2 linked regions of the Homo sapiens genome follow. The main gene of each other region encodes a partner of the protein of the gene in region 2 in a complex. Each region holds a gene or a part of one and is shown on either strand. Other genes may lie near its edges. A codon is read from its position in the direction of its gene.

What was found. The genes of interacting proteins can lie anywhere in the genome.
Region 1: the proteins of E2F5 (region 2) and RBL1 are in contact, whole or in part, in a crystal structure (PDB 5TUV), measured with the Homo sapiens proteins. Residues at the interface, in NP_001942.2 of Homo sapiens: Met162 (codon at 4,943), Ile190 (codon at 734), Ala192 (codon at 728), Pro193 (codon at 725), Ser194 (codon at 722), Gly195 (codon at 719), Thr196 (codon at 716), Gln197 (codon at 713), Leu198 (codon at 710), Glu199 (codon at 707), Val200 (codon at 704), Pro201 (codon at 701), Ile202 (codon at 698), Pro203 (codon at 695), Glu204 (codon at 692), Met205 (codon at 689), Tyr213, Leu217; in NP_002886.2 of Homo sapiens: Ser1000, Ala1001, Leu1002, Leu1003, Tyr1004, Lys1005, Phe1006, Asn1007, Ile1017, Met1020, Ile1021, Gly1024, Glu1025.

Annotation. Positions count from the first base shown.
Region 1 is NC_000020.11:37,092,983-37,100,311, forward strand, and holds the start of RBL1 (retinoblastoma-like protein 1), read right to left. Parts: upstream 3,016-7,329; 5' UTR 2,947-3,015; coding exon 2,791-2,946; intron 1-2,790. UniProt on the Homo sapiens protein: Key regulator of entry into cell division. Directly involved in heterochromatin formation by maintaining overall chromatin structure and, in particular, that of constitutive heterochromatin by stabilizing histone methylation.
Region 2 is NC_000008.11:85,201,153-85,208,175, reverse strand, and holds part of E2F5 (transcription factor E2F5), read right to left. Parts: intron 6,030-7,023; coding exon 5,920-6,029; intron 5,083-5,919; coding exon 4,921-5,082; intron 2,000-4,920; coding exon 1,956-1,999; intron 752-1,955; coding exon 687-751; intron 1-686.

The DNA.
Region 1 (7,329 bases), on a different chromosome or scaffold from region 2:
TCACATCTGGAGCTAAGAAGAGGAACAGATACTATCATTTATAATTGGTGAGATATACAAGCTATAAGAAGAACTGAAGATAAAGTGTTGTAGGAGAATATAGTGCAGTGAATAACTGATTTTGACTACAGTTTAGGGAAGGCCTCACAAAAGGAGACAAAATTTGTAAATCAATAAAAATGTAAGCAGGAGTTTGTCAGGTAGACTAGAGAGGGGTAGGGATTGGAGAAAGACTTCTTAGGAAGCATGAGATATATGAAAATGACTACTCCAAATACCTTTAAAAAATTGATTTTAAAAAAAGAGGAAAATAAACACTGGATAGAATAAACACAAAATTTCAGTTCATACATTTGTGCTTTCTAAAGCAAGCATTGGGCTGGGCTCGGTGGCTCATGCTTGTAATCCCAATGCTCTGGGAGGCTGCGGCAGAAAAATCACTTGAGGCCAGTTCAAGACCAGCTTGGGCAACATAGTCAGATACTATCTCCACAAAAAATTGAAAAATTAGCTGAGCACCGTGGTGCATGCCTATAGTCCCAGCTACTGGGGAGGCTGAAGCAGGAACATCACTTGAGCACAGAAGTTTGAGTTTACAGTGAGCTATAATTGCACCACTGCATTCCAGGCCTGGTCAAAAGAGCAAGACCCTGTTTCTTTCCATTTTTTTTTTTTTTTTGAGATGGAGTTACACTCTTGTGCAGGGTGGAGTGCAATGGCGTGATCTTGGCTCACTGCAACCTCTACCTCCTGGTTTCAAGAGATTCTCCTGCCTCAGCCTCCTGAGTAGCTGGGATTACAAGTGCACGTCACCATGCTCAGCTAATTTTATATTTTTAGTAGAGACGGGGTTTCACCATGCTGGCCAGGCTGGTCTTGGACCCCTGACCTAAGGTGATCTGCCCACCTCAGCCTCCCAAAGTGGTGGGATTACAGGTGTGAGCCACCGTGCGCCCGGCCAAGACCCTGTTTCTAAGGAAGAAAAAAAGAAAGAAAAAATAAATAAGTAGAGCAAACATTGAAGATGTCCTATTCAACTCTGCCTAACTAGAGATTTAGCTCTCAACTTTTCCTGGTGTTGGGGGTGAGGGGAAATATTCCAGGCAGAGGGAATGGCATGGATATACCACAAAACTGGGAACAAACTTGTCATATTCAAGAATCTGAAACAGGTGCATGCCTTGACCATAGTTTGACACAGTAAATGCTTATTCAATGACAGATGGTGTGACCTTGGGCAAGAGAGACCAAATCAGACCTAGGATGTCAGAAATGCTTTCTCAGGCTTTCAAAAATCAATCTGTTTTCAATTGAGACGCCATTCATTCTAATCTCCCTTACTTTCTTATTCTTCCCACAGCTCTCCAGTCATGCCACCCACGGATGTGGACCATTGTCCTTTACCCAGTCTATCCAGTTCTGAAGACACTTTTTTCAGGTACTACTCCTTCATATATAGGCACACATACAATCGACACTTTTCCAACTCTATGCCTTTGAACCCAGCAATTATTTCACTGGGTGGTGAGTCAGTGGTGCACCCTGGGAGTGGGTCCAGCGCCCTTGGCACATGAAAGCCTTTGAACATGAGGCCAGTGGTGCTACATGAAATACACTCCATCACAATTCTGTCTACACTGGGCTTATGCTCGTCTGGGTTTCTTTCTCTGTTTTTAGATAGAGTCTTGCTGTCACCCAGGCTGGAGTGCAGTGGTGTGATCTCCACTCACTGCGGCCTATGCCTCCTGGGTTTAAGCAATTCTCCTGCCTCAGCCTCCCGAGTAGCTAGATTACAGGCAGGCGCCACCACACCCAGCTAGTTTTTGTATTTTTTTAGTAGAGATGGGGTTTCGCCGTGTTGCCCAGGTTAGTCTCGAACTCCTGGCCTCAAGTGATCCGCCCGCCTTGGCCTCCCAAAGTGCTGGGATTATAGGCGTGAGCCGCCACGCCCAGCCTGGGTTTCTATATTAGAATAATCCTAGGCAAGACAACCTTCTGAGCCTTGCCATTATCACCTGGAAAGCAGTCTAATACTCATTGCCATGCCATGTTCACAGGGCTGTTGCGAGGATAAAATGCAAGAATGATGGGGAAAAAAATCAAGTAATTATAACTGACATTTGTTTTATTCAGAGCCAGACACTGATGCAAAGCATCAGGACGATGCTCTGACGGAGGAGGAAACGTAGGGCTGAGATCAGCTTCGTGTGCACATTGGCTTTGATCAAACTGCTGCACAGCGACCGGCAGCTCCACCCTGGTGAAGCAGAGGGTGGAGGTTAAACGGCTCAGACCCTGGGTCTGGCTCCATCTCTAACCGTGTGACCTTGGGCCTGTAGCTTAACCCGTCTAGGGCTCCGCTTCCTCTTGCGTGAAATGGGGATCACAGAAGGGGTTCAGACGGAACTGAGGGTCCATTTAAAGCTCTGGGCAGTGATGTCTTGGCATGCAGTTCATTTTCACTTTACCATTATATTTGTTCTTACTGATTTAAGGGCAGCACCATGACTTTTGTGGCGCTTGGCGGGGTAGAGGGAAGTGTGGTCAGGAAGCCTGGGGTCTGAGCGGCGCGGGACCTAGGCCGCTCCTTTCCTGAGCTTCAGTTTCCCGCCTCAAAATGATGGGTGGATTGGCTGAGCTACACCCACCTTTCCCGCCCCTCGGCGCTTGGCTGCGCAGCGACCCTCCTAGGTGGGGAAACTCCCACCACCCCATAGGCCGAGGAAGGGGCGGGGCAGGGGTGGGGCCTGGCGAGGGTAGGGTCCGGCCGCCCCACCTGCTGCCGCTCACCTCTAGGCTGTAGTTGCCTCGGATGGCAGTAAAGTCGTCCAGGGCTTCGGCCGCGCTCCCCTCGTCCAGGTTCAGCTCCTGGCACAGGGCCTGTAGCGCCTCCCCGGCTGCGGCGACCACCGCCGCCCCCTCAGCGTGGGGCTTGTCCTCGAACATCCCTTCAGGCCCCGCGGGCTGCGCGCCACGGCCCCCGACTTCTTTCTCCCTCCCAGGCGCGCTACCCACAACCACCTGCGCCAAAGCGCGCGAAAATCTGCAGCTGCGGGACGTGTTGTCATCCACCGTCTGCCTCCGCTTTTCTCCTCAAAAAAAGTCCGTTTTTCCTCCGGAGCTCCTAGCAGTCCCTCCCCGGAAATGTGATAAGAAGATGTACCTCAGATTCTGAAAGACCTGTCCTTGGCCCTTGGCTGGTCGCGGGGGGCCCAGCCGGCGGGACAGAAAAAGAGCGGAGGGATCCTCAGCCCGCGCGCAGAGCCTGCTGGGAGGTGTAGTCCATCTCTTGGGAGATGAAGCCCGCGGCCTCCCCCTGTCTTCCTGGTTAGGCTCTTGGGTTTTGGGGCAGGGCTGGGCTGCCTACTGCGAGGTGGCCTCGTGCAGCGTAGTGAGATGCCTCCTCTATCCACGGGCCCTGGGTTTGTCACTGTCCCTGGGCGCCAAACATAATCTGAGCTGTACCCCTTGAGTTAGGAGATGGAGGCTGGAAGAGAAAAAAGTAGCCCCTGGACGAAGAGGGGCCTCTTGGGACTCTCCCCAAAGTCCTAGTGCCCAGTGAGTGGTTCGCTAAATGACAGAGGGGAAGGATTGGTGACGGATATTAGAAGACGAATCCTCATCTCATGCTAGTCGCTAAAAGAGGCAGGCAGAGAAGACTGCAGTAAATGAGGCAGGAGAATAGGGTCTGGAGGCAGGGAACCTATGGCTGTTTCACGTGACTTCTTAGAACTAAATTGAAAGGAAAACCCCAACTTTCCACGCCTAAGTAACAAAAGAACCAGAGGCTGTTCCCTTGGACCTTTTCTGCATGGCAGATGGGAAATTGGCTGTCTGCAACAAATCACACTGAGCGCCTTCCAGTCTTTGTTTGCAACTTTGTAACTTCACTCCAGCCTCTGAACGGTTGCTGTCCACAACCAATCAGACTGATGGCGGGAGAGTCTTCCTTTGCATAGAAGTATAATTTTGTTAACTTCACCCTGGCCTCTGATTGGTTGCTTTCTGCAACCACTCAGACTGATTGTGGGCTACCACTTCAGTTACATCAAGAGAGCATAAAGTGGCCAATGGGAAACTTCTAGAGGGTATTTGGACCCCAGAAGATTCTGTGTCTGGGCCCTTGAGCTGCTGCGTGGGTTCGCTTCCCCACTATGGAGTGTACTTTTGTTTTCAATAAATCCCTGTCTTCGTTCTTTTGTTGTTCCATTATTTGCTTTGCCTGTAATCCCAGTACTTTGGGAGGCCGAGGCAGGTGGATCACTTGAGTCCAGGAGTTTGAGACCAGTCAGGCCAACAAGGCAAAACCCCGTCACTACTAAAAATATAAAAATTAGCTGGGCGTGTGGGTGCACTTGTGTAATCCTAACAACCTGGGCAACTGAGACATGAGAATAAAGAATCGCTTGAACCGAGGAGGCAGAGGCTGTAGTAAGCCAAGATTGCACCACTGCACTCCAGTCTGGGTAACAGAGTGAGACTCTGTCTCAAAAACAAACAACTGAGGACACATCTGTCAAACCCAGCCTCACCTGCATGCATTTAAAAAAACCAAAAATCAATATGCCCTTCCTTATATTGGTTTTATTTTTTCTTATTATCCCAGGACATGCCCATTTAACCCAAAATTGAGCTTTTCTGAATAGAAAATGAAGTATGGAAGGCCGGTTGCAGTGGCTCACACCTGTAATCCCAGCACTTTGGGAGGCTGAGGCAGGCGGGTCACCAGATCAGGAGATCGAGATCATCCTGGCCAACATGGTGAAACCCCGTCTCTACTAAAAATACAAAAATTAGCTGGGCATGGTGGCGGGCGCTTGTAATCCCAGCTACTTGGCAGGCTGAGGTAGAAGAATCGCTGGAACCTGGGAGGCGGAGGTTGCAGTAAGCCAAGATCGTGCCACTGCACTCCAGCCTGGTGACAGAGCGAGACTCCGTCTCAAAAAAAAAAAAAAAAAAAAGAAAAAAGAAAATGAAGTATGGGTAGTGAAATAGATTTACTCTGCCCTTCAGTTTTGAGCCAGATACACATGAAGGTTGTTTCTATTTTGATCCCATTGTGTGATAGCCTCTATGATTAGCCTCCCTGTTGTGGTTTAATATTTCAGAGTTCTCCCAAAGCATGTGGTTGGAACCTGATTATGACCTTTAGGGATTCCAAGACTAAAAAGATTATAGTGTGTACCCTTCCAAATGTAATTCAAAATATATGCAATTCTAAATCACAAAATAAGTGTAAGAAAGTACAAGAAAGTTCTAACTAATTTTCCCAAGATGTCTCATTTTGAAATTCTTAAATTTTTTTTTCTTTTTTTGTCCTCCAGCTTTGCTATGCCCTAAGCAGAAAATCAGTCTGCACTTGCCCCTCTCAGGACAAACTGCTTGTCTAACCTTCTATTAAAAAAAAAAAAAAAAAAAAAAAAAGCAGTTGATATTTGTGGGGGAGGGGCAAGACCTGACCTCACCATTCTTTTTTTTTTTTTTTGAGACAGAGTCTCACTCTGTCACCCAGGCTGGAGTGCAGTGGCAAGATCTCAGCTCACTGCAACCTCTCCCTCCTAGGTTCAAGCAATTCTCCTTCCTCAGCCCCCCAAGTACCTGGGACTACAGGCACACGCCACCATGCCCGGCTAACTTTTTTTTTTGCATTTTTAGTAGAGACGGGGTTTCGCCATGATGGCCAGGCTGGTCTTGAACTCCTGACCTCAGGTGATGCACCCGCCTCAGCCTCCCAAAATGCTGGGATTATAGGCGTGAGCCACCATGCCCAGCTGGACCTCACCATTCTTAATGTTCTTTTTCCTTGGAGGAAAAACTAAAGTGGTGATCTTTAAGCTGGTTCTGCACTGTGGAAGTAGTGCATTACAAAGATTAATAAAGCCTCTCTACCCACAGAAGGGGGAAAGGATTTGCATACAATCTTAGAAAAGCAAATGTAAATGGCTTTTAGATGTGAAAAGATGCCCAACTTTCTTTCTTTCTATTTATTTATTTATTTATTTATTGAGACGGAGTCTCACTCTTGTTGCCCAGGCTAGAGTGCAATGGAGAGATCTCGGCTCACTGCAACCTCTGCCTCCTGGGATCAAGCAATTCTCCTGCCTCAGCCTCCCGAGTAGCTGGGACTATAGGCGTGTGCCACAACGCCAGGGTAATTTTTGTACTTTTTAGTAGAGACGGGGTTTCACCATGTTGGCACAATGGTCTCAATCTCTTGACCTCGTGATCCCACCCGCCTCGGCCTCCCAAAGTGCTGGGATTACAGGCGTGAACCACTGTGCCCGGCCCCAACCTTTCTAATAGGAAAAATATATATACAAGTTTAAACCGGTATAAAACCATATTTTAATCTATTCAATTGTCAAAAATCCAAAAGTTTGAAAATGTTCTAGTGACTCCCCATTTCTTTCAGGGTTAAGCCAAGCTCCTTGTCCTGGCCTACAAGGCACTAAGGGTCTGGTGGTCCCCTGTCTAACTCTGCCTTCATTTGCTACTCTCTCCTTTCTCACCCTACCGTAGTCATACTTGTGATTCCTTTTGGCTACCTTTTTTTCCTTTAATTTTGAAAAATGCAAACTCAATTTTTTATGTAGTTGTTAACCCCAATGTTTAAAAAAAGTAAAGCATTTCATCCAAATTACTAACTAAAAGATAATAGCTAAGAATACCTGAACCAGATATCAAAGAATTGGGGGTAATGGGGGCCGGGCATGGTGGCTCATGCCTGTAATCCCAGCACTTTGGGAGGCTGAGGTGGACAGATCACTTGAGGCCAGGAGTTCGAGGCCAGCCTGGCCAAAATGGCAAAACCCCGTCTCTACTAAAAATACAAAAATTAGCTGGGCGTGATGATGCTCGCCTGTAGTCCCAGCTACTTGGGAGGCTGAGGCAGGAGGAGAATCACTTGAACCGGGGAGGCAGAGGCTGCAGTAAGCCGAGATTGCGCCACTGCACTCTAGCCTGGGCAACAGAGCGAGACTCTGTCTCAAAAAAAAAAAAAAAAATGCAATTAACCATTAGATACTTCCATTCTTCACCTGCCAGTTTTTCCATTTCCTTTCTTCTTTCCCATATCACCTCCAAGATGTCCCTCCATTGCCCTAGATAGCTCAGCTCTGGCTCTCTGTGTATATTCTTCAACCAAACAAGAGCCTGAGAATCAGATTGATGGTGACTATTTCTAATTAGTCCAAATTAGTCCAGTGTGCCTCTTGGGGGCCTCCCACAATTCCACATGCAGCTTATAAAAGTGGTTGCCCAACACAAACTAATCTCTTTTCCCAGAAAATTTCTGCTTGTAAGAAATTTTTCTCCATTTATGCTTAAAGC
Region 2 (7,023 bases):
TGTATTTTTAGTAGAGATGGGGTTTCACCATGTTGGTCAGGCTGGTCTTAAACTCCTGACCTCAAGTGATCCACCTGCCTTGGCCTCCCAAAGTGCTGAGATTACAGGCATGAGCCACTGCACCCAGCCCAATGTGGTCATTTTAACTTATTTTTATAGATTATTGGCCATATGATTAGTCATTTCTTGACATCCTCTAACTTAAAAAATTCAAATTTAAAATAATTTAATCAAAATGTTAAATCATTTTAAATCATTTGGTTACTTGGGGATAGATATCTTAGGGATAGGACCCAAGTCTAAACACAATATTCATTTGTTTCATACACACCTTATTCACATAGCCTGAAGATAATTTTATACAATAGTTTTAATTTTTGTATGAAACAAAAATCACTTGATAAAGCATTCTGATTACTTTTTAAAAATTGACTTTGAGCTAAATGATATCAATAAATGACTAAGGATATAGCCAATAATCTTTAAAATCATTTATGATTCATTTAGTTCTATAATTTTACCAAGGAATTAAAGACATACAAATTCAGCTATCAATACTTTTAGATAAAAACTTGACTAACTCACAGTGTTTACACAATTAGCTCACATTCAGCTAAAGAAAATATCCTTCTTGAGACAGTAGATTCATTTTTCCCACTTATATAAACATAAGTTATCCTACATACCATTTCTGGAATGGGTACCTCCAGTTGTGTACCAGAAGGTGCCTGAATGGCCAAAAGTGTATCACCTGGTCAAAAATAAATATAAAAAGTTACATAAAATACTGTTGATCATGGAATACAGTGGCAAGAATGTGGGCTCTGGAATCAGAGTGTTTGGTTCAATCCCAAACTAGGTGACCTTGAGCTTTGATTTTCAATTCTATAAAATGGGGGATACACAACCTACTGCATAGATTTATTTTGAGGATTAAATAAGATAATACATGTATTAGTATTATACATGGGTTAGCTGTATGATTCTCATTAACAAATTCAGCTCAAGTTGATTTTGCTTTGACTAAGACTCCTGTAAAGTCTGAGATTCTTAAGACCATTTAGCCTCAAATAACACTGTTCATTGGACTGAGGATAGTGGAGATTAGGTATGAGACACTGAAATGTTGAGCTTAAATGATTTTATTATTTTTGAAGCCAAATTCTACAACAAATCTCTGTTGAGTTGCAGATTAACAGAAGTCTCAGCAAACTTCCTTAAAAAACTCAGGAAATACAGTGGTAAAATAGAACAATAGTCCTATACTTATTTCCAACATAGTCTTACATAGAAAGTCAGATTCCACTTGATGAGGTACTTGGCAGAATCTTTTTAAATAGGTGGATAATACACATAAATTTAAATATGCACAATTTCATTTTACTTGTGCTATAATTTTGGGAACACACGTCCCCCCATTTTAGTTATATTAATAATTATAATTATTAACATGATATTGTTATTTTAAGGAGAAAACACAGGGGCAGCAAATTGCATAGGAATAGGTTTCCTGGTTATAAGATGGATTCACCTAATTCTTTCCTTATGGTTTCTTTGAGTTTCATTTGAGACCAGCATACTTGCATATAGTTTGATAAACAATGCTGATGAGAACCATGTTCTAGTTCAAGTTTGGTCACTAACTCTGTGACTGTGTGACAATGAAAGTTGCTTAATCCCGCTCTGATTTAGCTTGCCCTCTGTCCCTGTCCCCTTCCCCTTCCACACACAGTTGATCCCTACCAGTGGAGCTAATGAACTGAATGCTGTGAAAAGCAGCTATTCTCATGAAAACAGAAACAAAAGCAGTCTATCAATACACGGCATGGTGGAGTGAGACACAATGCCCACAACTTCTGAAAATAATGACAGGATGAGGACACAGGGAATTCTGAATCACCCTCCACTAAATAGGTTGAGAGGAAGAATGCAAGGAAAAGTCTAATGGTACTTACCATTAAAGCAATTACAGATGTCTTCATGAGTTACATAGGAAAATGTACTGTCATAGGAGTTAAGGAACGACATTTATATCAAGCCGTAGGCATTTAAATTAAGGTAATACATCTGAAGGTCAAAATAACTAAATGACCATATGCACAGAGGGACTGCCACACATGGACAGACAAAAAAAGAAGTCTAGTCTAGAAAGGTAAAGACAAAGGAGTTCCCATCCTTTGCTCTTAGAAGAAGCCATTCTGATTTTTGTGACATTTGAGGACCCTTAGGAGAGAGATGGAAAGCAGTGCACATTCTTCATGGAGGCAAAGGTTTCTGGGGGAAGGGAATGGATGGGGAAAAGGAGGCCATCAGCAACCATATCAGCTTCCACATCAGGAATTTTCTGTGATCGTTGTTTTTTGTTCTTGTATTAAATGGTCAGGTATGGCCACAAGAGGACACAGAGGATTAAAGAAAGGCTCAGAAAAACAAAGTATTATACTCATAGGTCCTAGTGACGGGAGGCAAGGCAGGCTACTCAGGGCCACATGGTTAAGACAACAAGGTGGTCAGGAGGCAGAAGACAGGAGCAAGGGGAAAGCATTAGCCCAGAGCTTTTATTGGGGTTTCCTTGGGAAAAGAAATGCAGGGTGGCTGGGCATGGTGGCTCACGCCACCCAGCACTTTGGGAGGCCGAGGCAGGTGGATCACTTGAGGTCAGGAGTTCAAGACCAGCCTGACCATATGCACAGAGGGGCTGCCACACATGGACAGATAAAAAAAGAAGTCTAGTCTAGAGATGGTGAAACCCATCTCTACTAAAATACAAAACTTAGCAGGGCATGGTGGTGAGCACCTGTAATCACAGCTACTCTGGAGGCTGAGGCAGAAGAATTGCTTAAACCCGGGGGGTGGAGGTTGCAGTGAGCCAAGATCGCATCACTGCACTCCAGCCTGGGCAACAGAGCGACTCCATCTCAGGAAAAAAAAAAAAGCAGGGTGGGGAGAACACTACGATTAGCTAGTCTGGATAATTTTGTTTTGTTTTATTTTGAGACGGAGTTTGCTCTATCGCCCAAGCTGAAGTGCAGTAGTGTGATCTTGGCTCACTGCAGCTTCTGCCTCCTGGGTTCAAGCAATTCTCCTATGGCCTCCCTGGTAGCTGGGATTACAGATGCACATTGCCATGCCCAGCTAGTTTTTGTACTTTTAGTACGGACAGGGTTTCACCCTGTTGGCCAGGCTGGTCTCAAACTCCTGACCTCAGGTGATCCGCCAACCTTGGCTTCCCAAAGTGCTGGGATTACAGGCGTGAGCCACTGCATTTGGCCTAGTTTGGATAATTTTGGTGGGCTCTAAGCTATGCAGGTAGTCCCCCAGTTGTCTGGTACCTGACCCTGGGATGATTAAGGCAGAGGAATATTGCCACCTGGGGTGTATGGACTGGAGAGAGGAGGTCTGGACCTTGACTGGTTAGTTTATATATCAAAGGGATGCTCCTGGCTGAGCCCATGCTGTTTCTTTTTTTTTAATTTTATTATTATTATACTTTAAGTTTTAGGGTACATGTGCACAACGTGCAGGTTTGTTACATATGTATACATGTGCCATGTTGGCGTGCTGCACCCAATAACTCGTCATTTAGCATTAGGTATATCTCATAATGCTCTCCCTCCCCCCTCCCCCCACCCCACAACAGTCCCTGGTGTGTGATGTTCCCCTTCCTGTGTCCATGTGTTCTCATTGTTCAATTCCCACCTATGAGTGAGAACATGAGGTGTTTGGTTTTTTTGTCCTTGCGATAGTTTGCTGAGAATGATGGTTTCCAGCGTCATCCATGACCCTAAAAAGGACATGAGCCCATGCTGTTTCTAAGAAGTGGCTAGTCCCAGGATGGGCAGTCTCTCCTCAGCCAGAAAGGTTTATGGAGATGTCAAAATACCATAATATACAGAAAACTTTATATATATCACACATAACCATGGTTGGGGCAATGGGAATGGCCAGCATCTCGTAAAGCAGGGCAGCGAAGTCCAAGATAAAATAGATTAATGGCTTTTGAATTTCAGAGCTCCACAGAACACAGCTTGAAAACTCCCATTGTTCTCAAACTGTTAAGGGGCTCTGATCCATACAAAGGAAATAACAAATGAGATCATGGACTTGTTCACCAAATACATGAAAATGTGAAAAGTAAATTATATTGTATACATTAGTCAAAATTTCATGAGGTGCTACAAGGTAAAATGTGGTTAGTTTCTTTAAGAGTACAGGTAAGTTCATAAACTAAGAGAATCACAGATACCTGAGAGAAGACGGTGGTTTGTAAGAAACACATGGATATGTGTTTTTATATATATAATAATGTTTTTATATATTATATATAAATATATTTTATATATTATATATGATATTATATGTATTATATATAATAATGTTTTTCCCCCAATATATATTGTTGATAGGCACACACGACTTAGACCCCTGTTCTCCAGTAGGAACTATTTTGGGGTTCATGTTAGGCAGAAAGTATCAAGGATTGATTGTGGACACATCATATCTCATCTTTAAACGAAAAATTTTCAAAACTTTGAGAGCTGCTGAATTTTATACTTCAGAACACTGAACATAATTATTTAAAAATACAAATGTACTTAACAATGGCTTCTAATATTCACAGATTTCCTAAGCACACTGGCTAGCATACTGCATTCTATCAATTGGTAGACCAAAAGTTGGCTAATCTCTTTTTCCCCCTCAGTGCAACACAGGAATAACGCTAACGGATCTGTACTATATAACTTAAAAAGGTAACATTTAGAAAATATTAGTATATAAGAATATAATAAAATTAAAATGTCATATTTACTTATAAAACTTAACTGTCTAAAAACAAAGTGAATGATCTTTAGACTGAAATGATTTATACATACATATTCCAAAGCTATATGTATATGCATAACTTATTTAAAAGGATATCTATTATTAATGGAATCGTCCATCACATTTTTGATGCTTTGCTGTAGCCACAACTTCTGCTGATCAAGTTCTCTTTCCTTCAGTTCTAGATCTTCAATTTCAGCTTTAAGATATCTTAATCTATCTATGACTTCTTTAGTATTACAGCCAGCACCTACACCTCTTAAAAACATATGAGAATTAATATCCTCAGTATCAGATCTAGGTTAATATCACTTAATTTTTACTGTAATAAAACTGACTTATTTAGTAATATATTCAAGACAGAAGTCTTTACACTCTTAAAATCAAGCACTAAAATCCTTAAAAATTTTAAACACCATACTTCTTGCTTAGAAAATTTATTGACAAGAACAACCAAATTACAAAAATTCTCAATCTTCCCTACAGTGTTTTTTTGTCATCTGGAAGGCCAGACTGGTTGGTGACTGGGTACCAAAAGAGTGTGCTCAGCAGTCACACCTAGCAGTCTCAGGATGTGACTGAGGTGCTGGTAAAATAAATTACAACATTTTAATGTTTTGGTGGAATTTTGGCGAAAACAAAACAAGACAAAAACTATGGTCAAAGGGGACACATTAGAAGAACAGAAATTGTTACATTCAAACGTATAACCAGGCCACAATTAATGACAACATGCGTTTCAATTAATTACTATTTACAAAGTACAAATTCCTATGAAAGTAGTTCTTGCTCTCAAGGACAGGTAAAGAGTTAGGAAGAGATTAATACAAGACAGTATGCAATGTGTGCCAAATGAGTAATAGCTTGAGGGAGAAAGTAAGATTTGAATTTTAAGAGCGAAAACCCAATATCCAAGAGAGCAAGGGAACACCCAACACAGGAGTGACACAGAGGCCCAGAAAGGTGTGTTCAGGGAAAGCTGAGGGGCCTGACTGAAATAGAGGATTTGGGAGATAGAAACATTGGGAAGGTCAAATTTTACAGAGCACTGAGAAGAAAAAAGGTTTCAGAAGAGGGTGCTGGTTTGTAACTTACTTCCACTGGATACTGTTTTTTGACTTTTTTTCAATCAAGTCAATTCCCTCTAAGACATTGGTGATATCATAAATTCTCCTTTTTTGCCTCACAGCCAAAGTATCAGCAGCCTGTTCAGGAAAGACAACGAGAACAGTGAAATAAAGGGCAAGTCATATTTTAAAGCCAAAAAGGGTTGATTATTAAATCCACAACAAGTCCAATCTCAAATTTGACCCACTCAGTTGCTTGGGGACAATAGCTGAGCATGTTCAAAGCATCTCCCAAACACTGCAAATACCAAAGAAATTATTCCATTTAAAAGCTAGCAGATGTTGGAACAGAAAAAGAAATTAAGGTCATGACACAAAGCCTGCAAAAATAAAAGAACACAATAAGAATACTTTGTGTCACCTTATGGACTAATCCTGAGGAGGAGCTACTAATTGCCTATCCATGTCACCTCCTATCTTATTTCTCTGTTCATAAACAGTCTCATCTAAAGATGCATTACTTATTTTTTAAAATTTTAAAGAATTACATCTCAGCAATTTATTTTGGTAATTAAGACACTTGGAAATTCTGAACTATATGCACACTTATAATACCTTGAAATAAATATCTACATTTTTAAATTAATAACGAAAACAGAGGAATGAATCATGCCATCCTAACACAAAGCATAAAATCAGCAAGAAATCAGAATCAATAGCTCAAGATTGCACTAGCAACTATTATACAAAAACTTGGTAGCTGCATTCACATTAGATAAGATCAACAAAACAATATATGCTATCATGTTATGAATTCAACAAACAATTCCTCTGATTAGTTCCAATTCACATTTTTGATGTGTGTTCCCAAAAGAACAAAGAGAACCTCAAAGAAGTTTTCAGAGTGGATTAGACAATAGCCTATTTTGAATGTGGAGCCACATTTTAAGATCCATGGTAGTTACAAATATTTGTGTCTCTACTGACAATTTTCAGCACATTATCTAAAATATCTAAATGAACAGGATTTAGCTTCACATAATTGCTAACAGCTCTCCCAGCTTCGCATAATTGCTAACAGCTCTCCCAGAGAGCATCACTACTTTCTTGATTCTGTGAAAACCTAGCTCAG